Regions from separate parts of the Homo sapiens genome. Here regions 1, 3 and 4 are each linked to region 2. The links come from fine-mapping of genetic effects on gene expression. A gene starts in region 2. Each other region holds a variant in brackets. All regions are shown on one strand. Distances are between the middles of the regions. Region 1 overlaps ZDHHC21 (zDHHC palmitoyltransferase 21). Region 2 holds the start of ZDHHC21 (zDHHC palmitoyltransferase 21). Region 3 overlaps ZDHHC21 (zDHHC palmitoyltransferase 21). Region 4 overlaps ZDHHC21 (zDHHC palmitoyltransferase 21).

Region 1 (8,344 bases), 20 kb after region 2:
TTCTGTCATTTTCATGGTGACTTGAATATTCTTCTTGAGGAGAATATATGGTGAAATACAGTTGCCTGAAAAGGCAAAAAATAGTGGTATTCCTTTGGAGTAAGTTGAACATTATAAATATTTACTCAGTCTGGTTTATTAGAGTTAAATTATAATTGTTTTTAAAGTTTGTGCTGTAGTAATTTACATCATTTAGTCACTGTAGTCAACTATAGTTACCAGATAGCAATCTTAAAAAATGTTGAAGTACCAGTATATCCACTAGTTACTTAATCAGAGTTTTGAGTTAAGAGCTCACCATTTAATATACAAATTAGTATGTCAGAATCTCCAGCTAATGAAAGTATTTTATGAATGCTGTCCTTAAGACCGAGTAACAGCATTGTGTTCAGTTTGGTTGTTGCTCAGGATGTGTAATAGTTTCTCTTCAGCCATAAGCCACGCCTGGTAGATATTAATTGAGTGGAGAGATCTTGCACCTCTTCCAGTTATGCATTTGTGGTTTGTCGTCTGATTTGGAGCACTTGGAAGATCACTGTTTTGTGTTCTACGACCCAATTGAGAGGATTATGTGGAGCTAAGTTTTACCAATCAGGTATTAAAAAAAATATATTCAACATCTTATTTGTTTGTTGTTTTATTTTTCTATCCTGTGCTCACTTTTCCTTAGGGATGCTTGCTCTTTTAGAGAGTGTCATCTATGTATGTTTACATCCAGGAAAAATGGACATATTTTAAACTATACTTTTCACTATGTAATTTTTTGTTGCTGTGAGAGATCTCTTCCAGTGATGAAGAAAAATTTGTTCTCTAGTAGAGGAGAATAAAAATAGAGTTCAAAAATTAATATTTGATAATTTTGCCAGTCGTTTTGCTGGCTCATGTACTTTTCTGCTTCTAATGTTAATAAATTTAAGCTACTCTCATATATACTTAGTGAAATTCATGTTCTGTTTTTAGTCCTGAATAGAACTGAAAAATTAAAGAAAGAAAGGTACATAAAATTAATAATATTGAACACGTTGAGAGAGCACTTGTCATTTCTTTTAGCACTTGATAATTGGCAAGACTAAAAAATTAACATTGTCTTGAATGTTTCTCTTTTTAACTGTGTAGATAGCTTACCATTTGTATTTGAGATTCCTTTATTAAAATGATTCTTAGCAAATTAAATAGCATGCTTTATCCTGTCTGACTTTCTTCATTTTAATGATACCAATCTGTCTTTTGATTTTTAAATTAAAAGATAAATAAATGAAACTTTTATTAGTTTAGTGGCCTGGGCACTATTTCTGTTTTAGAATTCATACACAAGTTAGAACATACCGGATTTAAACTATTAAGTGGTATTACATTTGAGTTCTTTTTTTGTTTTGTTTTTTGTTTTTTTTCTGCTGCCCCAATATTTGCAGGAACTAGGGATGAGAAACTGGGGGTATTCCTTTAAAATCAAGTATTCCTTAATCTCTTTTTCTTTGTTTCAGTAGCTTTATAGCTTTGAAGAACATGGGCAAGGCCTCTAAGGGATGGTGCCCTGAGGCTTTTCAATTGATTATGAATTGTTCTTAGAATGAAGTAGACTGGGATATAGGCTGAAAATCTGGGAATCACCCTTGACACTTTCCCCTGTAACCCCTAATATCTAATCAACCAGAAAAACACACTGGTTCGATTCTAGCAGTTGCTCCTTTCTGCAAACCTAATTTTGGCTTTTGCCTTCTCTTAGCCTAATGGACCTCTGTCTTTAATTTTATCATTCACACCAGAGCTTCAGTAATTTATTCACGGTACACATTTCGTCATGTTAATCCCCTGCTTCAATAGCTTTCCATTGCCGAAGAATTCAGTCTTAGCATTCTAACATGGCATCTTTATGTCCTTCATGATATAGGCCCATATTTCTTAGCACTCACTCTCCACAGAAAGCTTTATGATTTGTGATGGCAGGTTGTAATACCTCCCACAATTTCTACTCTTGCTCCTCCTATTCCTTCTGTTTGCAGTATTCTTGTCACTTTTCATTGCTTAGATAACTTTTACTAACCTTCTAAGACTGAATTCAGGTTTCACTTCTTACAGTAAGTCTTACTTGATTCCTCGTTTAACTGGTCCCATCTTCTGTGCCCCTACTAACATTTTGTTTTCAAATCTGGAACTTACCATATTATATTAAATCTTTTTTCTGATTCTTTTTCCCATTAGACTGTTCCTTTAAGCAAAGACCATGTCTTCTTCATCATTGTATCTGCAGTGTCTAGCAAGTGATAGGTGTGTAGTGGAGGCTCAGTGAATATTTGTTGAACTAAGTGAGTTCAACTCATTGTGGTAACATTGAAGTGTTAGTGAAGCTCATGGGTCAGTGCTTCCTAGACACCAGTCAGCTGTTTTCAGACTCTTGCAGAGCATTTTACAACATTTTATTGTTTTTTGAGTTTTATGAAGAATTATGATTCAGTAGATGTAGAATGGGGTCTGGGAATATGTATTTTTAAAAAGCTCCCCAGGTGTTTTTGGTTTTCTTACAGGCTAGAGAACCGTTGTCCTAGTTTATTATTATACCATTGTATTTTACGTAAAAGGTACCCCCTAGACTTTATACAGCAATTTATTATTTCATCCTTGGAAGTTATATCTACCAAAGTATGGATGTATTTTTAGTCACTTTTTTGGTACCATATTTATATAGAAGTATTTTAAGTCCTTAAGTGTCTCATTGAGAGATCTGTTGGCATATTGTTAACACTCAACTAAAAAAAGCCTCATTTAAACAGGAGTCTTCTTCAGTTGATCATAATGAGATTTGTTGGGCTTCATTCTATGAATTTTAGTATTTTTGGCAATTTGTAATTAGTTTTCACTTTTTATTGTCATTTTTCAAAATACTTAAAAAATGTTTTATTGTAGTTTAAAATTAAACTAGAGTGCACAAATCTGAAGTATACAGCTCAGTGAATGTTTACATATGTAGATACACATAAAGTACCACCCAGGTCAAGATATGGAACGTTTCCCAACCCCTCGTTCTCTCATGTTCCTTTTCAGTTAATATACACCCCTGCAACCACAAGGTAACCACTGTTTTGACTTGTGTGACCCATCAGTCTTCTGATTAAAGCTACTAAAAATTTTTGTACATAATCTTTTGGTGGACACGTGTATTCATTTCTTTTGGGTTTACACAGGAAGTTGCTGGGTTAAGGACAAACTTGTGTTTTAAATTCAGTAGATGATTCCAGTTTATACCTGTGATAGCAGTTCATAGTGAAACATTGAAATTATTTGAAGCTTATGATAAAATTTGAATATCCTGAAACTTCTGTTTGTTTTCCCAAGTATTTATTGTAAAAATATATATACAAAGAAATATCAATAAATATATCAACTACAGAAAGAAAATGTCAAATATGCAAAGAAAACTCAATGTCATTTTATAAAAGTTGCCAGAAATACAGGTTTTAGTCAAATTTTTCTATGTAAGTAATTATTTTCTTTGTTCCTTCTCCTTAGGATCATCCTTCCTTGTGGGTTAGCAGGCAGTTATAAGATTGCAAAATGGGTCTCCGGATTCACTTTGTTGTTGACCCACATGGTTGGTGCTGCATGGGTTTGATTGTCTTTGTTTGGTTATACAATATTGTTTTAATTCCCAAAATTGTCCTCTTTCCTCACTATGAAGAAGGACATATTCCAGGCATATTAATAATAAGTAAGTTTCTTGATCTTTATTTTCTTGTATAATTATTTTTCTCATTGTAAACGTTTTTGGGGTGTAGTGCCACTATGATAACTTTCCTTTTAATATATTTAGTATTTTAGCAGTGCTGTCAATATTCAGTTATTTACTAATTTATGAACTTATGGAAATAATGGCCTTTATAGATTTGCAGTTAGATAAAAGTGATATCTCCATTTTTAACTGCAAAGTGCATGAAGACCATTTTGTTAAAAATAGAAAACTGACACAGTAGTGATAACTTGCATGTCTCTCTGTATTTTTATTATTGCTGTTTTGTACCTAATTACAAATGTAGATGTTTTAAGAATAGAGACAGTATACATTACTGAGAAGTGAGAATTTCATAAGAAAAGTATTGATTACGAAGTTGATTATGATAACACTTGGAACTTCTGGATAGTTATTAGTCAATTGGTGATGGCTTGCTTATGATTAAAATAAATTGAAATTATATATTTTACATGTACATGGCATTTACAGTTTTCATGCACATTACCTCATTTTGACCTCACACGAACCATGGGAAATTTTATATATATATGATAAAACTGACCGGTACTATGCAGTCAGTCCTGGATTGAGCACTCAGACTATTCCCTTTACATGTACAGTATGTTTTTTTTTTTTATCGCCCCAACAGAATTTCTCTATTCTTACTAATTTAAAAATGTAGAATTATGGTGGCCAAATCTGTTTTCCCTTACTATTTTTGTTTTCTGGTTATTAATTTTAAAATTAAAAAGTTTCTAAGTCTTAATTATCAAACTAATCATTTTAAGATCCATCAAAAGGGACAGTTGAACATCACTAATTCAGAGTAATATTGAAGATACCCAGTTAGTTAATGAAAAAGTTTAGTTGTAGAATTTAAAATGGTATTTTGATCCTTTCAAATATAGAACATGCAGTAATTAAACGGGAGCCTATTCATTTATGCCATTATTAATAGGAAGTCCCTGTTATTAAGGGATCTGATTTATAAGAACTTTGAGTTACTATCATGTAAAATAATAATTAAAATTAGTAATGATTAAAATTAGGACTATTTAAGATAGTCCTCCTGACAGTGTTATTTGGTGAGTGAAATCAATTATTTATTTTTTAATCTTTTGAAATTTTTTCTCCTGATGGTGTTTGTTAAAATATACATTTTAAACTTTAAATATGATTGTTGATAAAATGTTTTGAAGGGTAAGTGACTAATTTATTTAATTTATTTATTTTAAAGTATTCTATGGCATTTCCATATTCTGTCTGGTTGCCTTAGTGAGGGCCTCCATAACTGATCCAGGAAGACTCCCTGAGAACCCCAAGATCCCACATGGAGGTATGGTACTCTGGATTTATCAGTTTTGCTGATGCCAGAATTACTGTCTTTATTTACATATTTTATTGCCTTTAATATATATTGGTTATAAATGTCATCTAACACCACTTTGATGTCTTTGCTTGTATGTGTCTTTTCCAAACTTCTCTACTTAAAATTGCAACCCTGCTCCCCC[T/G]GCACCCCGGCAGTTTCACCACACCCCATCTCTTGGCTTCTGTATCACATATCATATGATCCTCATGGTAATTGTATGAGGTAGGTAGGCTGGGTGGTCAGGAGCATAGATTGTCCTTCCTGGGTTAAACATCTGGTTGTTGGTGTGCGATCCAGCCCAAAGACCCAGAACCTTGTCTCTGTCATCTTATTACCATGGATCTATGTACAGAGATAATTTTAGCTTTTTATTCACCTTTGTTACGAATCTGGGGAAAACTTAAGTCATAATGTACTTTTTGGTGCTGGTTACCTGATTCTTTTGTAAATATGATTTTAATTTAGTAAAAAAAAATACAAAATTTTAACAGTGAAAGATAATATTGAATGCCTAGAGAGTTGAAACTGTAGAATAGTGACATTTATTCAGGAATGTTTAAAGGTTGAGCAGTTTCATATAACTGAATTCTTCAAAAAAGGGATCTTGAAGTCCTAATACTTTGGTGATTTTAACTATTTTTTTATTGAATTACTCTGAAGTATTTTACATGCGTTTCTGCTTTTTTAAAACACAATGACTTCAGTATATATGTGACCCACTAAATATGAGGCAATTTGAATATAAGGAAATGTTCCATTTTCCCATGAGAAGATTCCCAGAATTTGACTTTATAAACTTTTGAGCATATAGATGAAACAGTCAAATGAAATAGTTACATGTTTGTTTATATTACTTGAATTGTTCATGTGTGTATTTGAAATAAAACAAAATGAACACCTTCAGTTAGAAATATTTTTATCACTTTCATATTTTATGAAATTTTATTCAAGTTCTTAACTATGTTTAAAAATGGTTTATTGAGTATAATTTACATGCCATATAATTTACCCAGTTAGAGTGTACAATTCTATGGGTTTTTGTATGCCCACAGTTGTGTAACCATCACTGCAATCAACTTTAGAACATTTTAATCGAGTTTTTCACTTGAATGTTCGACATGTGGTTTTGTCATTACTAGAGCCATGTTTTTTGACATAGCATTACAGTGGAAATTCTTTCAAGTTAAAAAAAATGCGTCCTGTTTTGATGCAGTCTCTCAAAAATTTACCCCAAGCTCTAAGGATTCCTGTATTCAGTAATCAGGGTCATGTATTCACTCATAGTTTTAGTTTGATCCTCCCTCTTACATTGCTTTTTAAAGGTGATCTGTGAGAGACTTACTGACATTTATTTCCTACATTGACAACTGATTCTTGTTAGGGAATCTCTGTTAGGACCCAAACTTTGTATTGATTTAGGTAATTTCAAGTAATGTTTTTCTTCTCAAAGCATTACATAGTGATTTTAAATGTATTAATTGAGTGAGGGTCCCTTAAAATGAGAGTCTTTTAAAAGACTCATGTAGAAGGTGATTCCTTCCTTTCTGAGGGTCAAACAAACCAAGCATTGCATTATATTCATTCAAGCATTCACAGCATTAGTAAATCTCCAGGTTAAACAAAATGATGTATTTACTCACATTAAACAGCCTCAGTCATGGAGTTTGCCTTTTTTTTGGTTTTGTTTTATATTTTGATTTTTCTCTCCCTTAAAAATGTATCTGTTAGCTTTTAATTTTTTAAAGCTATCATAAATTTTCAGTTGAATTCTTTTTCTCATAGTCTTTTTAAAAACATTATTACTTGGCTAGTACAAAAATCACTAGACATCAGAATGTATCAGTCGCCAAGATCCTTTGTGGACATGAGTAAAGGAAGGAAAGGGAAATGACTAAGAAAGGCTTTAGAGATATGTAGGGTGTGTTAAGATGGATGGATTTTTTTTCTTGCTACACAAGGCAAAAGCACCTTCTAGATGATCAATTAAATTGCTGGATTTTTGACAATAGTGATTTCTCCTCTGTTCCCTAAACATATAGATATGTATGTGTTCATATAGATATGTGAAACTGTGAGTTTTTACAGGTATTTCTCATTTTAGATACTTATGTAATATCTTCATGTTATCAAAGGAATGACTCAAGTTCTTTCTTTAAATCAATTTATGGTCCAGACCATAGATTAGCAAATAAATTCTTCTTTACTATAAAGGCCCGTAGTAAATATTTTCAGCTTTATGGGCCATACAGTCTCTATTACAACTCCTCAGCTCTGCCACTGAAACACAAAAGCAGCCATAGACAATATGTAAATGATGGGTACATCAAACTTTGTTTATGGACCCAGAAATTTGAATTTTATGATTTTACATGTCACAAATTGTTATTTTCAATAATTTAAAATTGTAAAAATTATTCTTAGCTCATAGGTCATACAGAAACAGGTGGTAGACTGGATTTGCCTGCAGACTGTAGTTTGTATCTGTGGTCTAGATTACAAAATTGTAGGCTTTCTCTAACTATTGCCAAGTGCTCTCTTCTGAGAATACATTTTAGATATAAAATGAAGAATTTATTCTCTAGGATATTATATGCTGATTTCTCAGAAATTACCAATAATGAATACACCGTGTTTATGTTTTAAGTGGCTGATAAAAACAAATTTTTATATCGCCTTTTAGTGAAAATTGGCTCGTTGTGGAGCGCCTCCTTCCTGTCTATATTCCTTGCAATGTGTGAATTCAAAGTTTTTTTGTTTGTTTGTTTTGTTTTTTTTTGTTTATTTGTTTTTTTATTATACTTTAAGTTTTAGGGTACATGTGCACATTGTGCAGGTTAGTTACATATGTATACATGTGCCATGCTGGTGCACTGCACCCACTAACTCGTCATCTAGCATTAGGTATATCTCCCAATGCTATCCCTCCCCCCTCCCCCCACCCCACCACAGTCCCTAGAGTGTGATATTCCCCTTCCTGTGTCCATGTGATCTCATTGTTCAATTCCCACCTATGAGTGAGAATATGGAGTGTTTGGTTTTTTGTTCTTGCGATAGTTTACTGAGAATGATGATTTCCAATTTCATCCACGTCCCTACAAAGGACATGAACTCATCATTTTTTATGGCTGCATAGTATTCCATGGTGTATATGTGCCACATTTTCTTAATCCAGTCTATCATTGTTGGACATTTGGGTTGGTTCCAAGTCTTTGCTATTGTGAATAATGCTGCAATAAACATACGTGTGC
Region 2 (8,344 bases):
ATGATGGCTGAGCAATTGGGTATCTCTAGTAATAAATGAAAATAGCCAGCAGTCAGGGGCATCATTGGTGAGAAGTCAGCAATCACCTAAAGAGGGGATCATTATGGCACTTTATAACTGCTGCATGACCTTGGCAGAAAGTGTTTCCTGCTAATTTTGCAGCTGGCTTTATCTGTGTCTGTCCTCCTTGTCTGATTAGTGGCAGGGCTTCTTTTCTCTTTTCAGTCCAAATTGATTCTCACTCTTTTAATCCAAAAGAGATTTTAACTCTTTCAGCATCCTAGACTCAACTCATCAGAACATTCACTAGGATGCGTTTTCCTACTAGCACTTAACCAAGTGTAAGAATCTCAGGTTCATCATGATTTAATTGAATAGAAACTTCTAGAGCCACCATCAAACAATCCAAAGTTGAGGTAAAGCAATGTGGCCTAACAGGTTCCAATGTAGTATACTTAGAACCTTTCCAGATGCCCCACTACTCTGCCTTTTGATAATACCACTGCCCTCACTAATAGTCTTTTCCAGCTTGGAGCAGGTCATCACCTTTTGCCAAAAGCCTAAGGACTCTTCATTGGGAATAGCATTGTTTCTGAGGCTCACCATGCTTGGAATCTGTTCCACATTTCCAGCCCTCTCTCTTTCCATGTATCCTACCTTTGAGCCACACCAGAGGGATTCTTGCACTTTCATTTCTCTATGTTTTTGCTTACACTTTCCTCTGTCCTGAAATTTCTTTCCCTCCTTTCCCCCAATCAAAATCCTATTCTCACTTGCCTGATACAGGAACCATTCTCCAAGAAGCCACCCTTGAACTATCCCATGGAAATTACTAGTTTCTTCATTAGCACTTCCATAAAACTTTCCTTGTAACTCTGTTTAGCACTGCTATTGTTTTTTTCTCCTAAGCACACAGTCGTTTTTGTTTGTTTGTTTTGCAGTTTTCCTTGATATTTGGGGAAAAATGTTTATTTTACCTACTCTCTACATTCTAGGGATATTTCTTAGCCTGAAGTTCCTGGCTTCGCTGTGATCCTTTGGAGGCATAGGAAGGTGGGGCAACTTGTGAAACTTCATATATATAAATTTCATATATATAAATATATATGTTCCTGTATGTGTGTGTGTATATATGTGTGTGTGTGTGTGTGTGTGTGTGTATTTGTGTATATGTGTACTTTGCTGGGGTCCACAACTTTCATCAGATACTCAAAGAGATGTGTAACCCAAAAGAGAAGAGGTTAAGAACAACTTTTAGAATATTAGATTGTTATGGCACAGGCACTCTGCCACTCAAACAGATGGGAGAGACAACTATAGGCAACCAAGAAATCATGAATGTGCATCAAATATGGGTGCTTAAGGCATGGTACCCAGCTGGGCAGGTGGAGAATGCCATCCATCCAAAGCTGCCAAGGGCTATTAGCCAGTACTGATTAAACTCTGGACTGCACTGATTTTTGGAAATTGCACTAAAATCCAGATCCTCCCTAGTCACGGCACAGAAGCACAGGAGTTGGCTGTGTTTACCCTCATAAATGCCCTGAGTGTGCCTTTGTTAGAAGCTTGGTTGGCAGTGGCAGCAATGCTACTTGTCCTTGTCTACTTTTTCTACTTCCAGATAAATATTAGTTTGATTAATAATCACATTTCAGTTTGTCCCAGGCCCCATGAAGTAGATTAGAATTCTGGAGGGAAAAAATATGGTACGATCTATATCGTCTTTCCATAATATACCCAGTAAATAGAAAATCTTTTCAAAAGATTACCTGATGCCACATCTCCCTCACCCCCTTATTGTTACCCAGGTGCCTGAATGTATGGGTTGCAATACAATATAACCAATGATTAGCATGAATGATAGAACCAGATGACTTGACCTTCAGTGTAAGGGATAGGCAGGCCTTTGATTATACTCATGAAATGCCCATGCTAAAAAGGTTCATGTTTTTAAGGATGTTTCTCCTGCCTCTTCTCTCCTATTCCCTTGCTTAAAAATTCTCTGTGGAATTGATTTGGCTGATAAAAGACAGGCTAACTTATTTTAAAAAGGGACTGAAAAATCCATGCACTTCCAATTGTCATGTGCAATCATGGACCTGTCAACTAATTCTTATTTTGGCAGTTTTGAGATCACTTGTCACAAATTATTCCCTCTCACAGGGGTATCTGAAGAGAAAGCAAAATAATATGCAATTCATGTAGCTGGATTCAGGTGGAGGGGATTCTACTTTTAATATGCAATTGGGTAGCTGGATTTGGGTGGGGGGGGGATTTTACATTTAATATGCAATTCTGGTAGCTGGATTCGGGTAGGGAGGAGTCCACATTTAATATGCAATCAGGTAGCTGGATTTGGGTAGAAGGGATTCACATTGAATACGCAATCAGGTAGCTGGATTCCGGTGGGAGGATTCCACATTTCCTCTTCCTTCAAAGTGATTGTTTATATGAAATATCTCCTTCTTTTCAAACAGAGAAAGTTACAAAAATCCTACTACATCAAATGATTTATGAAAAATAAAGGTAATTCTATCAAAAGCAATCGTGACTAGTCTTTCAACCTCGCTATGCATATATCGGGGAGTGTATTTGTTAACCTGAAAGGCAATAAAATCTGCTTATGGGTAAATCAATTCCTACCACTGGGTTCTTTTGGGAATATCTAGTAATCTAGGTCAGTAATTCTAAAACTTGAGTGTGTATTAGGATCACCTAAAAGGCTTGTTACATCACGGATTGCTGGGCTACACCTAAACAGTTTCTACTACAGTAGATCTGGGATGGGGCAAAAGAATATGGATTTCTCACAAGTTGACAGGTGATACCGATGCTGCTGGTCTAGGGATCCCACTTTGATAACCACTGACCAAAGTTTTTAAGGTCACAAGGTGTTTATAATTAGTTCAGAAACCAGGACACAACATGTTTAAAAATCCTTAGCAATACAAGGTAATATGAGGCCCCAAACAGGCAACAATGTGCACTATATAAGGGCAGTGGTGAGAGAACTCTGGTTTGGCAAGATTTCCACTCTCAAATCTGGATAGGGTTAAGATCATCAGAGAGCAGGGCATTCTAGAATGGGGAAATGAACCAAATTAGTTGGAGCTAAGACTGGAGAGGTAGGTAGGGATGTGTCTGTGGAGGGCTTTTAAGCACATCTTATAAGGAATACAGATTTTATACAACAGGTAATATTTCTTCCACCAACACACTGTCTCCTCCTGTGGCACGTGGGCAGAAAGATCTAGCTCCACATTACTGCAAACGGTTTAACCTTCCCCAAATACTGTTCAGCCGGAGTGAGGTGGGAAAGTTAGTAGATCTCTGGTGTTTGGTGAAGATACCAAGTTAGACTGAGAGGTGGATTACTTGCATCGCTGAGTCCAAAAGTTGTCGGCTTTTGCAGGGATGGGAAAGCAGGAAACTTTTGGAGGTCTCCCAAAATATAAGAAAAGATTGTTTGGGTGTGGATTTAGGTTGAGGACAGGAACAGGAAATATCCTGGGATGTCTGAGGCAACCCAATAGAGGGTCTGAAGTGGACGAGACCATGCACTACAGTGCAATGCTTTTCCATCTTTACGGTGCACCCCAGGAGTCACCTGGTGATCTTGCTGAAGTGCATGTACTGATTCAGCAGGCCTGAAATTGTGCATTTCAAAGATTGTGAGTTCCCAGAGGATGCTGATGCTGCAGACCGCGCTTTGAAGCAAGGTACCATGGGACATCCCAGAACACCTGCGGGGAGAGAGGCCTGCTGGCCACATCCCCCGAAGAAAGGATACATGCAATCTTTTAAGCTAAGGCCCCCATCCTGTCTCTCGGGAGAGGTGAGCAGTGAGGATATGGGGACAATGAGAAGGACGGCTCAAGTAGGGCTGGGGAGGGGCAGAGGCGCCCAGGCGCGCCAGGTGCAAGCGCTCTGGAGAGTGCGGTCTGCCTGGGTCCGCGGCTCTGGGGCTGCGGCGCGATTGCAGGAGTTTCGGCCCTCAGCGGCTCCCATCGCGGCTCCCGGGAGCTAAGCGAGACGGCGACGGCGGCAGTCGTCCCTCCCCACGCGGGCGCGCGGGCATGCGGACACCCACTCGGCCGGTCCAGGCCCTCAGGCTCCCGGAAGCGGAAGGGGAGAGCGGCCCGGCCTGGGCGGCGGCGCCGGAGGAGGCGGAGGTGGCGCGGCAGGAGGAGGGGAAAGAGCTGCTGGCGGTCGGGAGAGCGGCGGCAGCGAGAGGCGAGCCAGCGGCGACGGTGAGTGTGCAGGCGCGGGGGCGAAGCGGCCGCCCCCACCCCCATCCCCATCCGCACCCCCACCCCCATCCCCGGCCCCCGCTCCGCTCTGCCGGGCCCGCCCGCCGCTCCTCCGCGCCGGGACGCCCTCACCTGTTCCTGCACGCCCCCTGCACCTGCTCTGTTTGGAACCCGGGGGTTTCTCGGTGCCTCCCCGCCCCAGGCCTGGCCTTTTTCAGAGCGTCTTCTGCTAGAGCTACAGCCCCTTGCTAAGTGCTCCTCCCTCAACTGGGGGTGGGGGGTTCCTGCTCTAGTCGAGACGATGTTGGCTAGTTATTTATTTATTTATTTTAAATCTGTATCCTGAGTTTCTCGCTTGTAAACTACAGTTTCTCTCCCCGCACCCCCGTCTGGAGACCTGCACTGGGATCCCGGGTTTCTCTGTGCTATTCCAGAGCTTTTCATTCATTCCAGACTTCTGGTGTGAAGCTGCAGAGAGGACAAACAGTTTGCTCCTTTATTGACCTTCTCACTCCTCTCCTCTTGATCCAAAGAGGTTTTCGGAAAATGGCTTATGGATGGCAGCAGTTTGCACTTGTTACTGTTCACTGTAACAGGTCGCTGGATTGTAACTGCAGAGTCCATTTAAGTTACGGTCTTTTTCAAGCTATATGTGGGTCACATTTTAAGATCCCTTGAGAGTCAGGGTGGATGTCTGTATCACCAGGGCTGAGAGGACATGACCAATTATTACTTTAAAATATTGCAATATAGCAGTCTCTAAAAGTAGAAGAGAAAAAAAAATCAAGGTCATTGTGGGCGGGTCATAAATTATATTGTAAAGTTACAGTCCAAAGGCGACTAAGGATAATTAAGTGCAATTTAAAAAGATGTGTTAAATAGGTCCTCAGCCTACTATGCTAATATATGCACTTTTAAAAATTCACTGCTTTCCTTGTGGTAAGAATAATATTAATAACAGTCACCATTTGATGACTGCTTAGTATGCGCCATTCCTGGATTAAAAGGCTTTTGGTGTAATATTAAATTCTTCCAACTCTTTAGATTTTACTTATTTTAAAGGTAAAATTCGGAGAGATGCTCTGTTTTTCCTTAGTTTGTGCCATCTCTTAAAAGCAAAAAGATATTTGAAGAATTGAGGTGAGAAATCCACTGGAAAGAAAGAGCCAAATGAGATTTGGTGTCGTGGAAAGAAAAACTAGATTCTAGTCCCATTTCTGTCACTATCCAGCTGTGGGTTTACAGGTAGGGCAATGACCCATGTTATTTTCTCTATACCATCAGAGAGCCAGACTAAATTATTTAAGGCTTATTTTAGCTTTTCCATGCTTACTTGGAAAATGTTTTTAAATAAGACCCTTTAACGTGGTTTGAAGGTACATTAAAAACATATACGAAGTATTAGTAAAATATGAAAATATAAGTTAAAATGTATAATTCCATAATTGTTTTGGTGTAGTACTCTTCCAGAATTCATCATTTTCGATGGAAACAATTCTATTAGATCCTTTGACACTACTGAGATTTCTGTTAACATACTTGAGAAGCTGTAGTTGGAATAAATGAAATAGAGCGTCATTTAAAGAAAATGATGAGGACCGTGTCACTTTTGCCTACGAGGTACTTTGTTTAATAAGAGAAATCTAAGCATTTAAAAATGCAGACATATAATCAGCTTAACAGGAAGTTCTGAGACAAGAATCAATGAATCATAACATGTACTTCTTATTTGCCTACTGCCTCATTTCTTTAATTCGTAATGACCGATTCAGAACCTGTGGAAAAATGCATGAATAAAATAATGGTTTTATAAAATGTGACCCACATATAGCTTGAAAAAGACCGTAACTCAAATGGTCTCTGCAGTTACAATCCAGGGACCTGTTATAGTGAATAGTAACAAGTGCAAACTGCTGCCATCCATAAGCCATTTTCCCGAAAACCTCTTTGGGTTGAGAGGAGAGGAGTGAGAAGGTCAATAAAGGAGCAGTTTATTGTTTGTCCTCCTGCTAGTCTTATTATATAGTGGTTTAGTAAAGAAACTGCTTGAGAAGTTGAGTAATGTCTCAACATGGAGCTGTTTTTCTGGAATTGTAATTGAATGTGACTCAGTGAAAACTTTTTTAGCATAGGAGGTGACACAGTGGCAGTATCAATACTACCAGGCAAAAGAGGGAAGGCAGAGGAAAGGCTGTTTTTATTGCCAAGAGTTTGTTCCCTAAATTCAGTTTTACTTTTATATTAAGGAATGTAACCTTTTATGTTGTTTTAGTAAAACATTAGGGCTCAGATTCAACTTTTCACATGCATTAAATATAATAGGCAATTTAGCATCTAGTAGAATAATCAGTGCTTAAATAACTCTTATTAAAGGTAAAAATACAGGTGAAATTGTAAAACAGTTTTTATTGTTGAAAGTGATTTGTTAAGAATTCTTGATAAGTCAAGTCAGACTAGTTTAAAAAGCACATTTTCATAGACATGTGAATCATCACTGTGCTCATTGATAGGTCCCTGAACAAAAATACCTTAGTATGATGGTACTTTATGTGTTTGTTTTGCTCTTTAGACCTAACCTAGGCAAAATTGTGACATTTTTGAAGTTTGCCTTCTGCCTTTCAAGCTGCTTTTTCCTCTGTGCTATTTCTCTCAGGGTAGATTAACCTTCTTCCCCATTTCAGAGACTCTCTTAACCGATGTGTTGCCCCTTCTACAAAAGGGCAGGTTGGGTAAAATTGATATTTTACCATTCACTGGTGAATTTTATTTTAAATCTAACCTAAAATGCTCAAGTGTGATGTCAACCAAGCTTCTGATTTTAAGCTTTTTATCTGTAATTACAGAATGAAGAACTTTTTCACTTACTGCAGGATTTTCAGCTTCAGCAAGCAGGTGAGGAGAGATTTTTCTTATGGTGTTAGTGTTCTTAAATCATGGCTGCTTTGGTAAAGCCTGGTGTGAAGGAAATCTAATTTAGTCTTCTACCCCCAACCCCCCACCAATCTCTCTTGGTGTGGTGGGTACTAGAAGGTAAGTAGCAGGCTTCCCTTCCTTCTTGGAAGAACATACTTGATTCATACCCAGGAAAAGCCTGGGCCTCTTCATTTCTGGCTTTTACTGTATCTGAAGGTTTTTTCCTTGTGCTGATTTTGGAACAAAAGTTACCTTTTTAAATCCCTGTCCCTATCCTACATTTAATCTTGCCTTTTCAGTCCCTTTTCCCACTCCTATCTCCCTAATGAAAATTCCCACAGAGACCTTTTGTACTGACTGAAACAATATTTGGTGGTCTTTAATTCGTATCACCCCACACCTCCCAAGCTATTTTTACTTTTTGTTAGAAGATTCTAATGAAGTGAGCTTGAGCCAGGGAGAATGGAGACTGAGGCTGCAGTGGGCTGTGATTGCAGCACTCCAGCCTGGACAACATAGTGAGACCCTGTCTCAGACAAACATACCCAAAAAACAGTGGCCCAGTTATCTACTTTCTCTAAAGTTAAAGCAAGTTAATGCAAGCAGGGAAAAATAAAGGTAAATGCCTGTATTAGCAGTACTAATACTACTAGTAGTAATACTACTAGGATAGTGTTAGCAGTATTAATACTGCAGTGTAGTACTACTAATACAGTCATGTACATTTATTTTTCACTCATGAGACTGGTGCACACAAAAACAAATTTATGAGAAGAGCAACAGCTTATGCTCAATTTTGCCCAGAATGTAATTTAAAGACTTAGTCTACAGAGTGGATTCTTGAAACCATTGATAGTGCAAGTATTTTATGCTTTGACACTTTGTCCACCCACGTTTTTACAAAGTCTTCCTGGAAAACTCAGCAATTGATTCAGAATCCCTGCTTGCATTATACATTCTTTATTAGCTTCTGAGATCAAGTACTGATTTTCTTTCACACTTTATTCCTTTGCTCACCAGTCCTGCTTTTACTTGAATGTGATTTAGTTTAGGGGCTTCAGTTCATTCATTCTATTTTAGATCAAATCTCTATTTTCGGTTTTCTTCTTAAAGATCCCCCTAACCAACGTGTAGAAATACAACTTCAGCTAGTATGATACTAGCCGAAGGGCTGTAATATT
Region 3 (8,344 bases), 29 kb after region 2:
AGATTTTGGGCTGAGACAGTGGGGTTTTCTAGATAAACAATCATGTCATCTGCAAAGAGGGACAATTTGACTTCCTCTTTTCCTAATTGAATACCCTTTATTTCCTTCTCCTGCCTAATTGCCCTGGCCAGAACTTCCAACACTATGTTGAATAGGAGTGGTGAGAGAGGGCATCCCTGTCTTGTGCCAGTTTTCAAAGGGAATGCTTCCAGTTTTTGCCCATTCAGTATGATATTGGCTGTGGGTTTGTCATAGATAGCTCTTATTATTTTGAAATACGTCCCATCAATACCTAATTTATTGAGAGTTTTTAGCATGAAGGGTTGTTGAATTTTGTCAAAGGCCTTTTCTGCATCTATTGAGATAATCATGTGGTTTTTGTCTTTGGTTCTGTTTATATGCTGGATTACATTTATTGATTTGCATATATTGAACCAGCCTTGCATCCCAGGGATGAAGCCCACTTGATCATGGTGGATAAGCTTTTTGATGTGCTGCTGGATTCGGTTTGCCAGTATTTTATTGAGGATTTTTGCATCAATGTTCATCAAGGATATTGGTCTAAAATTCTCTTTTTTGGTTGTGTCTCTGCCCGGCTTTGGTATCAGAATGATGCTGGCCTCATAAAATGAGTTAGGGAGGATTCCCTCTTTTTCTATTGATTGGAATAGTTTCAGAAGGAAGGGTATCAGTTCCTCCTTGTACCTCTGGTAGAATTTGGCTGTGAATCCATCTGGTCCTGGACTCTTTTTGGTTGGTAAACTATTGATTATTGCCACAATTTCAGCTCCTGTTATTCGTCTATTCAGAGATTCAACTTCTTCCTGGTTTAGTCTTGGGAGAGTGTATGTGTCGAGGAATTTATCCATTTCTTCTAGATTTTCTAGTTTATTTGAGTAGAGGTGTTTGTAGTATTCTCTGATGGTAGTTGGTATTTCTGTGGGATCAGTGGTGATATCCCCTTTATCATTTTTTATTGCATCTATTTGATTCTTCTCTCTTTTTTTCTTTATTAGTCTTGCTAGCGGTCTATCAATTTTGTTGATCCTTTCAAAAAACCAGCTCCTGGATTCATTGATTTTTTGAAGGGTTTTTTGTGTCTCTATTTCCTTCAGTTCTGCTCTGATTTTAGTTATTTCTTGCCTTCTGCTAGCTTTTGAATGTGTTTGCTCTTGCTTTTCTAGTTCTTTTAATTGTGATGTTAGGGTGTCAATTTTGGATCTTTCCTGCTTTCTCTTGTGGGCATTTAGTGCTATAAATTTCCCTCTACACACTGCTTTGAATGCGTCCCAGAGATTCTGGTATGTTGTGTCTTTGTTCTTGTTGGTTTCAAAGAACATCTTTATTTCTGCCTTCATTTCGTTATGTACCCAGTAGTCATTCAGGAGCAGGTTGTTCAGTTTCCATGTAGTTGAGCGGCTTTGAGTGGGATTCTTAATCCTGAGTTCTAGTTTGATTGCACTGTGGTCTGAGAGACAGTTTGTTATAATTTCTGTTCTTTTACATTTGCTGAGGAGAGCTTTACTTCCTACTATGTGGTCAATTTTGGAATAGGTGTGGTGTGGTGCTGAAAAAAATGTATATTCTGTTGATTTGGGGTGGAGAGTTCTGTAGATGTCTATTAGGTCTGCCTGGTGCAGAGCTGAGTTCAATTCCTGGGTATCCTTGTTGACTTTCTGTCTCGTTGATCTGTCTAATGTTGACAGTGGGGTGTTAAAGTCTCCCATTATTAATGTGTGGGAGTCTAAGTCTCTTTGTAGGTCACTCAGGACTTGATTTATGAATCTGGGTGCTCCTGTATTGGGTGCATATATATTTAGGATAGTTAGCTCTTCTTGTTGAATTGATCCCTTTACCATTATGTAATGGCCTTCTTTGTCTCTTTTGATCTTTGTTGGTTTAAAGTCTGTTTTATCAGAGACTAGGATTGCAACCCCTGCCTTTTTTTGTTTTCCATTTGCTTGGTAGATCTTCCTCCATCCTTTTATTTTGAGCCTATGTGTGTCTCTGCACGTGAGATGGGTTTCCTGAATACAGCACAGTGATGGGTCTTGACTCTTTATCCAATTTGCCAGTCTGTGTCTTTTAATTGGAGAATTTAGTCCATTTATATTTAAAGTTAATATTGTTATGTGTGAATTTGATCCTGTCATTATGATGATAGCTGGTGATTTTGCTCGTTAGTTGATGCAGTTTCTTCCTAGTCTCGATGGTCTTTACATTTTGGCATGATTTTGCAGCGGCTGGTACCCGTTGTTCCTTTCCATGTTTAGCGCTTCCTTCAGGAGCTCTTTTAGGGCAGGCCTGGTGGTGACAAAATTGGTCAGCATTTGCTTGTCTGTAAAGGATTTTATTTCTCCTTCACTTATGAAGCTTAGTTTGGCTGGATATGAAATTCTGGGTTGAAAATTCTTTTCTTTAAGAATGTTGAATATTGGCCCCCACTCTCTTCTGGCTTGTAGGGTTTCTGCCGAGAGATCCGCTGTTAGTCTGATGGGCTTCCCTTTGAGGGTAACC[C/T]GACCTTTCTCTCTGGCTGCCCTTAACATTTTTTCCTTCATTTCAACTTTGGTGAATCTGACAATTATGTGTCTTGGAGTTTTTCTTCTTGGGGAGTATCTTTGTGGCGTTCTCTGTATTTCCTGAATCTGAACGTTGGCCTGCCTTGCTAGATTGGGGAAGTTCTCCTGGATAATATCCTGCAGAGTGTTTTCCAACTTGGTTCCATTCTCCCCATCACTTTCAGGTACACCAATCAGACGTAGATTTGGTCTTTTCACATAATCCCATATTTCTTGGAGGCTTTGCTCATTTCTTTTTATTCTTTTTTCTCTAAACTTCCCTTCTCGCTTCATTTCATTCATTTCATCTTCCATTGCTGATACCCTTTCTTCCAGTTGATCGCATCGGCTCCTGAGGCTTCTGCATTCTTCACGTAGTTCTCGAGCCTTGGTTTTCAGCTCCATCAGCTCCTTTAAGCATTTCTCTGTATTGGTTATTCTAGTTATACATTCTTCTAAATTTTTTTCAAAGTTTTCAACTTCTTTGCCTTTGGTTTGAATGTCCTTCCGTAGCTCAGAGTAATTTGATCGTCTGAAGCCTTCTTCTCTCAGCTCGTCAAAGTCATTCTCCATCCAGCTTTGTTCTGTTGCTGGTGAGGAACTGCGTTCCTTTGGAGGAGGAGAGACGCTCTGCATTTTAGAGTTTCCAGTTTTTCTGTTCTGTTTTTTCCCCATCTTTGTGATTTTATCTACTTTTGGTCTTTGATGATGGTGATGTACAGATGGGTTTTCGGTGTGGATGTCCTTTCTGTTTGTTAGTTTTCCTTCTAACAGACAGGACCCTCAGCTGCAGGTCTGTTGGAATACCCTGCTGTGTGAGATGTCAGTGTGCCCCTGCTGGGGGGTGCCTCCCAGTTAGGCTGCTTGGGGGTCAGGGACCCACTTGAGGAGGCAGTCTGCCAGTTCTCAGATCTCCAGCTGCGTGCAGGGAGAACCACTGCTCTCTTCAAAGCTATCAGGGACATTTAAGTCTGTGGAGGTTACTGCTGTCTTTTTGTTTGTCTGTGCCCTGCCCCCAGAGGTGGAGCCTACAGAGGCAGGCAGGCCTCCTTGAGCTGTGGTGGGCTCCAGCCAGTTCGAGCTTCCCGGCTGCTTTGTCTACCTAAGCAAGCCTGGGCAATGGCGGGCGCCCCTCCCCCAGCCTGGCTGCCGCCTTGCAGTTTGATCTCAGACTGCTGTGCTAGCAATCAGCGAGACTCCGTGGGCATAGGACCCTCCGAGCCAGGTGTGGGATATAGTCTCGTGGTGCGCCGTTTCTTAAGCCGGTCTGAAAAGCGCAGTATTAGGGTGGGAGTGACCCGATTTTCCAGGTGCGTCCGTCACCCCTTTCTTTGACTCGGAAAGGGAACTCCCTGACCCCTTGCGCTTCCCGAGTGAGGCAATGCCTCGCCCTGCTTCGGCTCGCGCACGGTGCGCGCACCCGCTGGCCTGCGCCCACTGTCTGGCACTCCCTAGTGAGATGAACCCGGTACCTCAGATGGAAATGCAGAAATCACCCGTCTTCTGCGTCGCTCACGCTGGGAGCTGTAGACCGGAGCTGTTCCTATTCGGCCATCTTGGCTCCTCCCCCCGAATTCAAAGTTTTAACACTGGGATGTTTGGGAGCATTGAGCTAAGTAGGGGAGTGGAATATGATATGCTTGTGACATTGTAATATGCTATAGATTAAATGAGTTTTTATTTCACTTAGAGGTAAATAGTACTAGTTTAACTATGTAAATTAAGCTTTAGTACTGTTGCTCTTGCATGATTTATTTTCATTAAAATAACTGTAAGAGATGAAAAAGTATTTTCTTTTAAAATAAGATTTCAAGTATAAGAGATAATTTCTCAACTTTCATATTATTGGAACAATTAATTTGATGTAGGTTTTATTCATACTTTGTTTCTTCAGAGATGTCTGTAGTGGGAGTATTTTCCCAACGCTTTACTATATAAAAGTCCAGCATGTTGATGTTGCTCCTGACCATTCAACTAAAGTAATGGAATTCAAACAGAGAATCTTAAAAAAGAAGAAAAAAAAGAGAAAAAAAAGAAATAAAAATATCAATATTGGTAAAAAAAAAAAAAAATCTGTAATCTGAAAAAAAAAAGAAAATTGAATATTGTCTACTATTATCTTTCACTTTTATTTAGAATCTTTCATTTTTTGATTTTAGACTTTTCATATGTCAGCAAGCATTTAGTGACTACCTAGTATGTGCTAGGGTCCTACTCTTCATGTACTAAAATTCAATCTGAATATAGGAGTTAGGCTAATCTTACTATGTCCATACTTTTAATGAGGTTATGGGATAGTATAAACACAGATGATGAAAATTAAAAGAATTTTGTAAAAGAAAAATTCCATTCCAATATATTTAAAAGATACATTTTTGTATAATAAGGCAATTGTCTTTTCTAGGAAGATGACTCTTCCATAGTTTTCGCGGACCTAATTAGGACAGTTTTTAATGAAAACAAAAGCCTTTTCTCTTATGCAAACTTTGTGTTTTTGGCACAGAGCTTAATCGTGTGCTGTTTCACTCCAGATTAGAGGAAATTGCTAGTTGGTGGTAGTTCAGTGTTTTATGAAGAACTCCTTTATTTTCATTAAAAATAGTAGTTGTCTTATAACATTTTTCACTACTGAAACTATTCTGATACCTCCCAAACCCATATGACATCCTTCTCTAACCTGTCCCATACACACTCTTAAATGAATCTACTGATGTTTTTTAAAATTAAATGATTTAGGGAAAGTGTATGTGGAGGGAAATGCCATCTGTTTTTCGGATGAGTTTATAGGGTTGATTTCAGTTTACTAATCAATTGAAACCAGGGTCAGCATTATTTCTTCTTTAGAGCCTTTAGAAAATGAAATTTCTAGAAATCAATTTGTTTAAATAAAATTGTTTTAGTATAATAATTTGGTTGGGCTCTAGGGTTTTGTCATTGGATTTTACTTATATTCTCACAGTATACCCAGAATCCAAATACATTGTTTTCTGTCTCTTACTTTGACTATAACAATAGTGTCTTATTTTTTTAGTCTTTTAAATTAGAAACACACAAAATAAGACATATGTAGAATAGAACAGCAGCATTTATGGCAAACACATTTATACCAAAGGCTTAGAAGAAAAATCTCTTAGAGTTTTATGTTGAAGGCTTCCTATAAAATCTTCTAAACAACTGTTGGTAAATTTCAGCATTACCCACTTGCCTTCATTAAATGGATTTTAATTTCTTTTCTTTAGAAAGGGAGTTCTGGGAATTATGTAACAAGTGTAATTTGATGAGACCAAAGCGTTCCCATCACTGTAGCCGCTGCGGCCACTGTGTGAGGAGAATGGATCATCACTGTCCATGGTAAGAATAATTCACTTCTAGCAAAGAAAAGAGGGGTGGGTAATAAAATGTAAATCTTACAACTTGGCAGCTTTAAACAACAGTTATGTTAAAGTTATATAGTTTTACAATATCTTAATAAGGATATCTTTATTTAGATTATATGGTTCTGTCAACTCCCAAAGTCATTTTTCCACAGAAATCCTATCTTTTCTAACAGGGAGAGATTTGAGCCAAAAAAGTAAGAATTAACTGCAGCCTGATATACAAAAGGATTAAGGTGGTTGTATTAAATGAGGCAATGTATATAAAACATTTACTACAATATCTGACAAGTAGGATGTACTTAAATGGTAGCTATTTCTAATTGTAATAAACCATATGCATCCGAATGTTTATATCCCCTTTTCATTTGTTTAATTAATAACATTTCAGACACCCTGATAACCTCTTCCTTACCCCTTAAAGCTTTTTAAGCATTATGTATTGGATATAGCTACTACCATTATGTACTTGTTGGAAGTATGTGAGTGATAATTAGCTGATTCTGCAGAACTGCTAACAGTTTTGGTCAATAGGGGGCTCTCTTGTAATATTTAAAGAAAATGTTCAGTTGAGAAATATAATCTTCGAAAACAAATGCTGCGTGAATTCTGTATTGTATCTCATTTTAAAGCTGTCACAAAAATCTGTGAACAAGATATTGTATTTAATTCTGTTTTCTTAGCATTGGCTCTCTGTATAAATATTTAAACTGGTATAGTGTAGAATTTGACAAATGTATCTGTATACATATATGTAGTATTTATGTTTGTATACACATACATGCATATATGCAAATTTACATAATGAGCCTCTTAATTTATAATTGCTTTTATTTAAAATTGATGCAAGTGGAGTTTAGCTTTTTCTAATGTTAGTCTATTTAGAGTTTTCTTTATTTTTGATAACTTATTTTGATAGCACAGTTATTCAGCAAACTTCTGGTGGAAATTTGTTTTTTTGCATAGACTGTTTAAAAAGAAGATAATTTCCTGAAATAGGAAAAAGTAAGAGCATTTTCGATAAAAGCATTTTGTTACTACATAAAAATTTTAAAAATTTCTAAATCTGTCAACAAGATAGAGTAGTGTATGACATATAGTTGATATTCAAAACTGTGCCTTGAATTTAAACGTAAATAATTATTTGGGAATTACTTGGGAATAAAGATTAATTCCCAAGTAATTTTCTTAAGCTCAGTGATCTGTTTGCTCTCACAATAGTAATAGATTTTTAGAAAGCTACGTGAAACATGTATTCAGATAATTGCTGATCATACAGAAAAGCTCAGTTTTTAAGCGCTTCTTATTGTAGAGTTTCTTATTCACTAAAATACAAATGTTCATGATGGAAGTGGATATTGATGCTTTTTTTTTCAAACGAATGCAGTAGTAAGAAAGAACTAGGAAAGACTCACTTATTGGTGACCAAATAAGGTGCTATTTAACCTTAATTCTAACGTTGGGGTGATTTCTCTTTCTGGGCCTCTTGCTTCCATAGTTTTAGTCAACTTTTCAGAAGTTGGTAGCAGTGAGGGGGAAGTACAAAGGATTGGAGGATCAGAAAGGAGAGTAGACAAGGGACCTAAAGAGATTCAGGAATTTTTATCATTGAATTTCCTGATAGAGCACTGCTGAAATGTTCAGAGAGCAGGGGAAATGTACAGTGTAAATTGGAAGCAAGGAAAATTTTTGATGTTTTCAGAAATTGCACTACTTAACTGCCTAAGACATTTTTAGGTTTGGAGGTCAATTCTCACGTTGCCTCAAGGTTTTCTGTATTTGTGGCTCTGATCATTCTTTTTTTTTTTTTTTTTTTTTTGAGATGGAGTCTTACTCTGTTGCCCAGGCTGGAGTGCAGTGGCATGATCTCAACCTCTGCCTCACTGCAACCTCTGCCTCCTGGCCTCAAGTGATTCTCCTGCCTCAGCCTCCCGAGTAGCTGGGATTACAAGTGCATGCCACCATGCTTGGCTAATTTTTGTATTTTTAGCAGAGACGGGTTGTCACCATGTTGGCCAGGCTGGTCTCAAACTCCCAACCTCAGGTGATCTGCTCCCCTCGGCCTCCCAAAGTTCTGGGATTACAGGCTTGAGTCACCGCGCCTGGCCTGATCATTCTTTCTAAGTAGTGCAGATGTTACAAAAAGAACTCATATAGATTGAATACCTTAGTGCTTCTTAAAGCTGTTCTGGTTAAGAAGAATGCTGTGATCATAGACATTGTTTCTCAAACTTCCTGGGGACAGGAAAGATGGAACAATGATAAGTCATCTTTCAATCGGCAGCTGTTGAAGAGCACTTTTGAGTGTATATTAATACATAAGCACACTTCTCTTATAATCCTGCTTGCAAATAACAAAGCACAGTAGATTTTCTTGTTTACAAAACATGCACTCTTAAATCTTAAGAAATG
Region 4 (8,344 bases), 76 kb after region 2:
GTAAGCATCACATTGTTTGAAAGAATAACCATGCTTATGATGATTTAATAGATAGTATTTTAGTTATTTCCCAAAACAGATTCAAGAAAGGTATCAAAAACACTTGAAAATAAAAGCTTTTTCTGTATGAAATCTAAATCTGAAATCTTTAAAGTTGATTTTTTTAATGCCACAAATAAATCCTTCAGGATTATAAACAAGTTGTAATTTCTCCATAGTAAAAATTGCCCTTAATCTTAGCTGGTGAGAGTAGTCTGACCTTTCATTTGCCTTATATACCATGGAATAGTTTATAGTTTTTAAGTGTTGTCCACATCTGTGATCTTAGGCCATTCATATACCTTTCCTAATAGCTATTCTATTTCAGCTTTCTCGTTGACTTCTATCTCATCTTTTTCTTCGTACTTTTGTGTAAGTTGTTTTAATTGCTTTGGAACAATGTGTTACTATCAAAACTCTAAGAAACCATTAAAATGACTTACTTCCTTTACAGATGTGGAACCTGAAGCCCAAATTTCCTCTAAGACCCTAATCAGTGTTCTCATATGTTTGTAGACTGTGTTTTCATAAAGTAAGACATTTTGAGGAAATTGCAACGGAGCAGAGAAAGGTTAATTATTAATACAATTGTCACTGGATACCATTAATTACACAGCTTGATAGGAAAACTAATGAATATAGAATATGTAGCTAATCTATAACTTTTTAAAAATTCCTGGAAAATGTGTAAATGAAACTATGTTGTTGGTTATTAGTTATCTTAAAAATAGATCCATTTTCTCTGATTTTCTCTTACATAGGCTAACTGTAGTTATGCAACTATTCTTAATGAGAATTTAATATTATGAGCTATTAACATCTCTAAAGAGTTGTTTTTGAGTGAAGGTGCTGTTTATTAGCATCATTGGAAAAGTTTTGCAGCCAAATAAGTTCTTGGGATTTTACCTGTAGCTGCAAGAGTTTGCATGAATAGTACTGCTTAAATAAGTCCACCTATGTATAAACAAAGTGTTAAGGTAAAGTAAGGGATAAAAAGAGGAAAACTTCTCCAGCTTTTGGTGTATTTGAATGAATGTACTCTTTTGCACTGTTTCAAAATATATTTAAAATACAAATAAATATCTAAAAATAAGATTGTGTAATTTGTGTTTTGATTATTTGGCTATTGCTTATAACAATTTGCCAGTCTAATGATAAGTCTTCTGATAACAGAAACCAGCATTTCTGGAAGCAATCTTCTGTTTGTTGAAATTTTTTTTTTTACATATTTGTGTTAGAGCCTTACAGAAAGCATACAATTAGGGAATTGTATTATCAAAAAAGTTATTTTTTCCGCTAAGAAAGAACTCTGGTCAGTTTAGTTTTCAGAATAATAGATGTTGTAATATGGCAAATTCATAGATTGCCTTGTTGAGTTTTGTTGTTGTTTACAGAAACCCAGAACCAGTAGCACCCTGACTCTTAGGCAGTTTTCTGTTCATTAGTTTCTTTCATATGTCATTTTAGTATTTATTTTTTAATGCATATTCACTGACAGTTAAATTGAAAGTAGATTGTAGACTTTCAAAGGAATTGTCAAGAAAGCAAGTGTAATAAAAGGTTATATTTTAATGAAGTGATACTGTCATAATTTTTGTGAGGTTTTAGTATTTGAATAGGTTTTTTTTTGCATAGTATAATGTTGATTTTGTTTTTCCAAGGGGATTCCAGCAATGTATGAAAGATAATTTAAAATTCATAATACTCATATATAAACTGTTTAAATCTATAGAATATTTTTGGAATAAGATTAAAAACATGATAGAGTGGATACAGAATAAAGACTTAATAACTTTCTTACATCTGAATATAATTTTTTATTTTTAATAGGATACAACATCTATTGAAAAGATGTCAAACTGTTGTGAAGATATGTAAGTATAAAACTGAAGTGTATAGTATTATTTAAAATTGGAAAGAACTGGACATACTTGAGAAATATGTGCATATGGTAGATAGATAATATAATGATGGCTTTTTCTTGGTGCATTGTCTGAGGCCTGTGCTAGGCAAGCTACCCCAGTCTTACAGTAGGGGTTTTCCAGCCATGGTAGTTTTCACACTAAAATGCTGATCATTCTTGTGCCTTGTCTAACTAAAGTAAGTTAAATTATTTGTCCTGAAAGTACATCAAAAGAGATTTGCTACTGTGTTGTTGACACACATTCTGTTAATCCTGAGATTTTCCTCTGCTTCAAAAGTTGCGCTCGGTTGATTGACGACACAGATACAATATCTGCTATCCAGAGTTAAAACTCAGCTGCATGCCATAATGAAAGAAAAGCTGTATTTATGATGCTGGGACACAATTCATCAGAGTCCAGTAATGGATCCCCAGCCAATCTGTATTGTTTTAGCTGACTGAAGTGCACCATGGGAGTGCTGTCTTTCACTAATAATGCTGTCTTCTGTAGATCGAGGCCCCGAAAGCCATGGCAGCAGACCTTCTCAGAAGTTTTTGGCACTCGTTGGAAGATCCTGTGGTTCATTCCTTTCAGGCAGAGGCAACCACTGCGAGTTCCCTACCACTTTGCCAATCATGTCTAAACAGATGGATGGTGGGCACAGATGGGTCCTCCATGCTGGCAATGCGTTACAGGTTTTATGATAATAGAACTATGACAGTCTTCAAGTCAATTAAAATCCACCCACCAGTCTTAGGCATCATAATGTGCCCCAGGCTTTATTTTAATAGTGATCTTGATCCTGTTGTGGGACTAATACAAGATCTATATTTAAGTTTTAAAGCATGTTTACTTTCAAATTAGCTTTCCACAGGGATTTCTTGAAATGCTTTTGTTATTAAACTCAAAAGGCAGTGATTAGGATGAAATAATTGTACATAATTTATTTTAGTACTGACAGTGTTACAGATTCTAATTTATGGTAAATTTCAGATGTTTATTTAAAATTTTCACTTTTAAACAGTAACCAAATCTAAATTTAATTATTCAGGTTTTACAAAAGTTGATACACCTTCTTATAGTATAGGTAAATTTTCTTTTTCAAATCCAATTTAAAATAACCTTTCCTTTTAAATGTGCTGCAACGTTTTTAAAAATGCAGCAGCATAGGAGTGAACAACAGCAACACAAAACGGGCATTGGTTTCTTAGGAGTGGCTTGCTTACGTTTTCTTCTTTTTTCTTCACCAAAACCAACATGAAAGTACCACTGAAGTAAAACACCAACTACCTACCTTACTATAAAGGAAATGTTAAAATTTTTTTCACAATAATTTTTTCAATTTTCACTATTACTGTTGTAATTATTGATTGTGATTAAAATATTTGCTCCCAGGAGAACTCCTGACCAGTGGGCATGTATTCCTATTTTATCCTAAGATTTTAATGAGCAAAAAGGGGAGAGAATTTGCAATAACTTCACAATTACCTTTTCTAGTGCAGTTATATTAGAATGCATATGTTTTTAAAATGCTAGTATAACTAGATAGTATATAATGTACAGTATAAAGAGGAATATTGTGCTTTTGAAAAGAGTATACTTTTTACTTTTATTTATGTACTAGTAGATGTAAAATTTCACATTGAAGGTTTATATATATTGGCCAACTCATATAGAAATTTTATTTATAGGAAGCTACTACTAAAAAAAGTCACTAACTTTGTGTACCTATAATCCCTAAATTAAAATTAAATTTTAATTGGCTGGCTGTAATTTGCATTGAGAGACCTTTTACTAGTAGCTAGTGTTAGGAAGTGAACCTAAAATAAGAAAATATAATGATCTGTGTTTATCATTAGCCTTGTACAAATGTAAATTACTAATAGTGATGTTCTTTTGCAAGGCATAGAACATTTGTATGAAAAGACATTTAGTATGCTTTGAAAAAAACTCAGCTTTTAGTTTTTTTCCATTAGAATACTGCAAAACCCATATATCTTTTTAAAAAATTTATGTACTCACAGTCTTTCCCTTGAAGAGAAGATTGAAAAAGTCTACTGTTCATAAACCATGCTAACATTTTCCTTTTAGCTAGTTTTGAAAGTAAGGAACAATACCTGGGAAATAATTAAACAGAAGGTTACCATTGTCAGCCAGTTGGCTATACTGTGGTTAGTTCTTTCAGAAATTGTAAATATCTTGTAGCATATTCTGAAATAATAGAGTAAGTTCTTCTCAGAGATGTTAATATCATGTTTTTCATGTTCTAATTAGAATACTTTATTACTTACAAACTCAGAAATACGAACAGAAATACAGCAGACGAACATATTTATTGGTACTGAAAAGAGACGTAGTAAATTAAATAGAAGAAATATATTTATAAAGCTTAGTGAAACACAAAATTAGAATGTTCATGTCAGGCACAAGGGTTTGGATTTTGTGCAAGCTAATTTGGCCACATTTGGCCTGGTGACAGAACTGTTCATAAGGAAGTAATATATAGATAAGGTAGGTAGATATCAGTTGAATGCCTTATATTGTATACATTCCTTTCAAATAAAGACCTTGAGAAAACAGCAGAGCCAAGTGAAGATCACCTAAAGAACTTTGTGGCTAATTTATACTTCATGTAGTAGCAGTGGGTACTGGGCAGGGTCTCTTTCCCACTCTGATGATTTGTGCTCTTATTTTTCCTAGATTTACCTCATCTAGGGCATATTCTTTTCCCTCTTCCTCTTTACCTTTCCTGGTCCTGATCCCTCTGTACTCAGTTCCCCTAAATTATTGGACTACAAACTAATATACTAGAAAAGCATACACTTATTTTATTTGAATGCAGAAATGCT[A/G]TCTATCAGTATATATACATAAGAATGTATATTACAGTATATCTATATATACTTAACACTGTAACTTTCAGTATTCCCCAGTTAGCGTACCTAACTCTCCTGTGGGTTTTGTTAATTCTTATTAGACTACTAGAGAAAAACCAACTGGCAGTTTGCTAAGCATATCTACTGGTGTTGTTTCTGCGCCCTCTTTTGGCTAATTGATGTAATTATACTGGCTCTAAAGATTTACTGCCCCATAAGTAAATAGTATAGCCACATTCTGAACATATCAAAAGTACAAACTTAGGAGGAGTGTATGTACAAAAATGTAAAATTTTATGAAAATGAACATGTTTTTATGATGTTATTTCTAGTTCATAAGAATGTGATGACTGCTTTGCTTCATTTATGTACGTTCCCATTATATTCTTGCTGTCAATCAATCACAAATTTATATCAGATTAGGATAAACTAAGCCATTTTATGTATTTTATTTTAAACCTTATTTTGGCAGAGTAATTCCTTAGAATTGGAAAAGCTGTTACTTTGAAATTACCAATTTATTACAAAACATAGAAATGTATTGTAGCTACAAAGACAACCAAGCATTTTCTGTGTTTTAATGAATATCTAAAAAACTACATTTAGTTTATTTTACTCAGTTTTGAAATGATTTTTTTACTGGCTCTATTGCCTTAAAATAACTAAGAGATTAATGATTCTTTGTATAATTTTCCTTTTCTTTGTTCTTTTTTTTACATTTCGCAGAGTTATATCTATAGTTTTAGTAACAATTTCTTATGTATTCTGGATAACTGAAAACAACTAAAGGTGTTGGGCATTAGAAAATAATTGTGAGCAGTAAGATTACTGATGTAATATGTATGTTGGACTGAAGTATTTCTTTATAAACATTCTATTTGATTTTAAGCAAAATGTATGTTAAAGCATGTTTTTACATCAGTAAAGTCATTTGTCGACCTTCTGGAAATGAAAGGTTTTTACCTAGATACTGTAAGTTACACCTCCTTAACAATCATATTTGTCATTGTTGTTTTCTGCAAACAAAAATGTTTATGGGCTTCATGTAGGCTTAAGATTGTAGGCAAAAATGGACTGAGTTCAGGACCCTTCAAGCAGTAGGCATTCAGTTACAGAGCAGTTGGTACTTTGTAACCCAGACTTACAGTTTAAAAATATCAAGTTAGCTGATGTTTCATTATAATAAAAATACTATTTTGCTTAAGAGTTGTATTACAAATATTTGTGCTTAACATTAGAAATAGCTGTTTTAAATTGTAGTTAACATATTAACTTTTTCAGAAAAAAAGCATGGTTTATTTTTAATAATGAAATAGAGAACATAATACGTAATGTTCAGTATAACAGCTGAGTTAAAACATCTGCCAGGATTAACATCAGTGCGTTTTTGCCAATGCATAGAGGCATTTTTCTCTAAGTATGATGGCTAATGATAACTATTCTTTGTTACACATTCAAGTCACTCCCATACAAGTAACTAGTGGGTGATATGTTTCACTCCAAAGGGTGTATTAATTCTGAATGCTAATCATGAAGACTTAAGTTAGGACAACACTTCAAACCAGGAAGTGTGAACTGATTTAGATTATAGCTACACAATTTTCTGTGTGTTAGATCATGGGGTAGTTTGAGTGTTTTCACATGTATTGCTATAAAATCACAATGTACCAAGCTCTGGTTTAATATGCCATTAATACTAATTAATAGAGCTGCTAGTCTCTCTCTGGACTTTTCTCTAGTCTCTGCTTCTCTTGCGCTTCCTGTATCAATAGATTACTTAGCTCAAGTTTACCAAGTTTAATAACCTATAGTTACTTTATTGAATAAGTTTCTGACATGACCTCTAATATACATAGATATATCTAGAATTTATTTGATAAAATTCACACATACAAACATTGAGTAGTTTGCTAATAGATACAAATATTAGATTTTCACACAACTCTACTACTGCTTTAAAAATATAAGTATTGGTAAGTGTAGCAAATAAGCCATGTACATTTAATGTGTTCTACTTGCTAGTATTAACTGTATGATTAATGAATGTGTTATTTAATGCCCAAGTTTGTTAACTTTTATTCTAGAAATCATCCTCTGAATTTATTATAAATCACAGATTTCATTGTGCTCTATATTTAGTCATTCTCAGTTGAATTCTAGAATATTCCACAGTACAGTATAAGAAAGTATTAGAACCAACTTGCTTGAACTATTTTGAACCAGTGTTGTAATTCTATATGTTAATCAGTATTTAGCATTTCTGCTCCTTTTGAGATGATGATGGTTTAACTTCAGGAAAGTGACTTTTCTGACTTCTTTTATTATCATTGTGCAATTTTTAGCAACAAAACTCACTATATCTTTGTCAGTTCTTCAGATGTTACAATACTGCCTGCTAATTTGAAACAGAAATAACAATGGTATTTTAAAAAGTCATTGATATTACTGATACTTTCCATTATCATTATATTTTTTACTATTATTATGTTCTTTTTGCCTTGTCCACCCTAGAGAATAGGTACAAATGAGTAGTGAGTATCCACAAACTTACTAAGATGGAGAGAAGGCTAGATGGTGCATGAATAATCAGCATCTCAGCAACAGAGTTGACTGGAGCCAGTTTCTGACATCAGAGAATCTCTTTGCTGTAATCATTTTAGCCTTATCTCTTATTTATACCATTTTTATGGGAAGAGTTGTTAGTGCATATAAGCATTTAGTTTGAATTATTTAACTTAAAGAATTTATATTGCGGTTTCTCTTCAGTTGGTCAGATGCCTTTTATAAATATTTTAGTTTTAAATATAATTGTGTAGAGTATGATCATGTGAAGTGTTAAAAATAATGTGGAAAACTCAGCTATTTAATGCAGAGGAGAAATGAATAGGTTGACCAAAGTTTGAAAAAACTGGCACCTTTTCTGGAAATCTCTTATTGCAAAGAAAAGATACTGAGTGTATAGAAAATTTTGTCACCAGAGGAAAAATAAACAATATATAAGGGTGGCTTTCACTTTAACATTTGGGATATTTTGGAGTTCTTGATACCTCGAAGGTCTCCATTTCTATTGGTATTTTGAATATCTGTAACATGTAATGTCGTTCTTATAACAGTTCAACACTGATTTTTTTGGTATCGATAGCTTTATATATAAACAAAGATGCGGACAAAATAGCTTAACAGAAGTTGTGGGCTTTTTTGTGGCTTTGCCTGCCTGTTTGACCAAATACAGGGTTTAATTGTTTGCAGGCTGTTAACTAAAGGGAAAGCTTACCTGCGTATTGCAAGCTATATATTCTTGCCAGTATACATTGGATGATATTTTAACCTACTGGTGCCTGAAGTTCGTGTTTTATAACCTCAACAACTATAAAACATCCTGGTGCTATTCACTTTAGCATTGAGTGACATTTTTAATTCCTGTACCAAAGAGTTAATTTTCTTTTTGGTTGACTGAGTTTTCTTCTCACATCGTTGTGTATTTATAAAGTAGAATTTAATGTTACTAAGAACAGTTTGATTAACAGA

The links.
Region 1: its variant is fine-mapped to the expression of ZDHHC21 in thyroid (GTEx, PIP above 0.99). The same link has a PIP of 0.9 or more in adrenal gland and lung.
Region 3: its variant is fine-mapped to the expression of ZDHHC21 in esophagus muscle (GTEx, PIP above 0.99). The same link has a PIP of 0.9 or more in gastroesophageal junction, sigmoid colon, thyroid, tibial nerve and transverse colon.
Region 4: its variant is fine-mapped to the expression of ZDHHC21 in whole blood (INTERVAL, PIP above 0.99).

What each region holds. Positions count from the first base shown.
Region 1 is chr9:14,669,549-14,677,892 of GRCh38, reverse strand. It overlaps ZDHHC21 (zDHHC palmitoyltransferase 21), which reads left to right. Exons shown (of 10, transcript NM_178566.6): 4 at 3,508-3,706; 5 at 4,965-5,063. The coding sequence starts at 3,553. Among named protein-coding and RNA genes, the nearest start is that of ZDHHC21, 20 kb to the left of the region's middle. The variant T/G (reference allele first, on the strand shown) is at 5,239.
Region 2 is chr9:14,689,135-14,697,478 of GRCh38, reverse strand. It overlaps ZDHHC21 (zDHHC palmitoyltransferase 21), which reads left to right and starts at 4,047. Exons shown (of 10, transcript NM_178566.6): 1 at 4,047-4,250; 2 at 7,094-7,142. RefSeq lists an enhancer at 3,542-4,042 and silencers at 4,116-4,185, 4,266-4,405.
Region 3 is chr9:14,659,780-14,668,123 of GRCh38, reverse strand. ZDHHC21 (zDHHC palmitoyltransferase 21) reads left to right here. Exons shown (of 10, transcript NM_178566.6): 6 at 5,798-5,909. Among named protein-coding and RNA genes, the nearest start is that of ZDHHC21, 29 kb to the left of the region's middle. The variant C/T (reference allele first, on the strand shown) is at 2,518.
Region 4 is chr9:14,613,208-14,621,551 of GRCh38, reverse strand. It overlaps ZDHHC21 (zDHHC palmitoyltransferase 21), which reads left to right. Exons shown (of 10, transcript NM_178566.6): 9 at 1,870-1,913; 10 at 2,454-8,344. The coding sequence ends at 2,586. Among named protein-coding and RNA genes, the nearest start is that of ZDHHC21, 76 kb to the left of the region's middle. The variant A/G (reference allele first, on the strand shown) is at 4,793.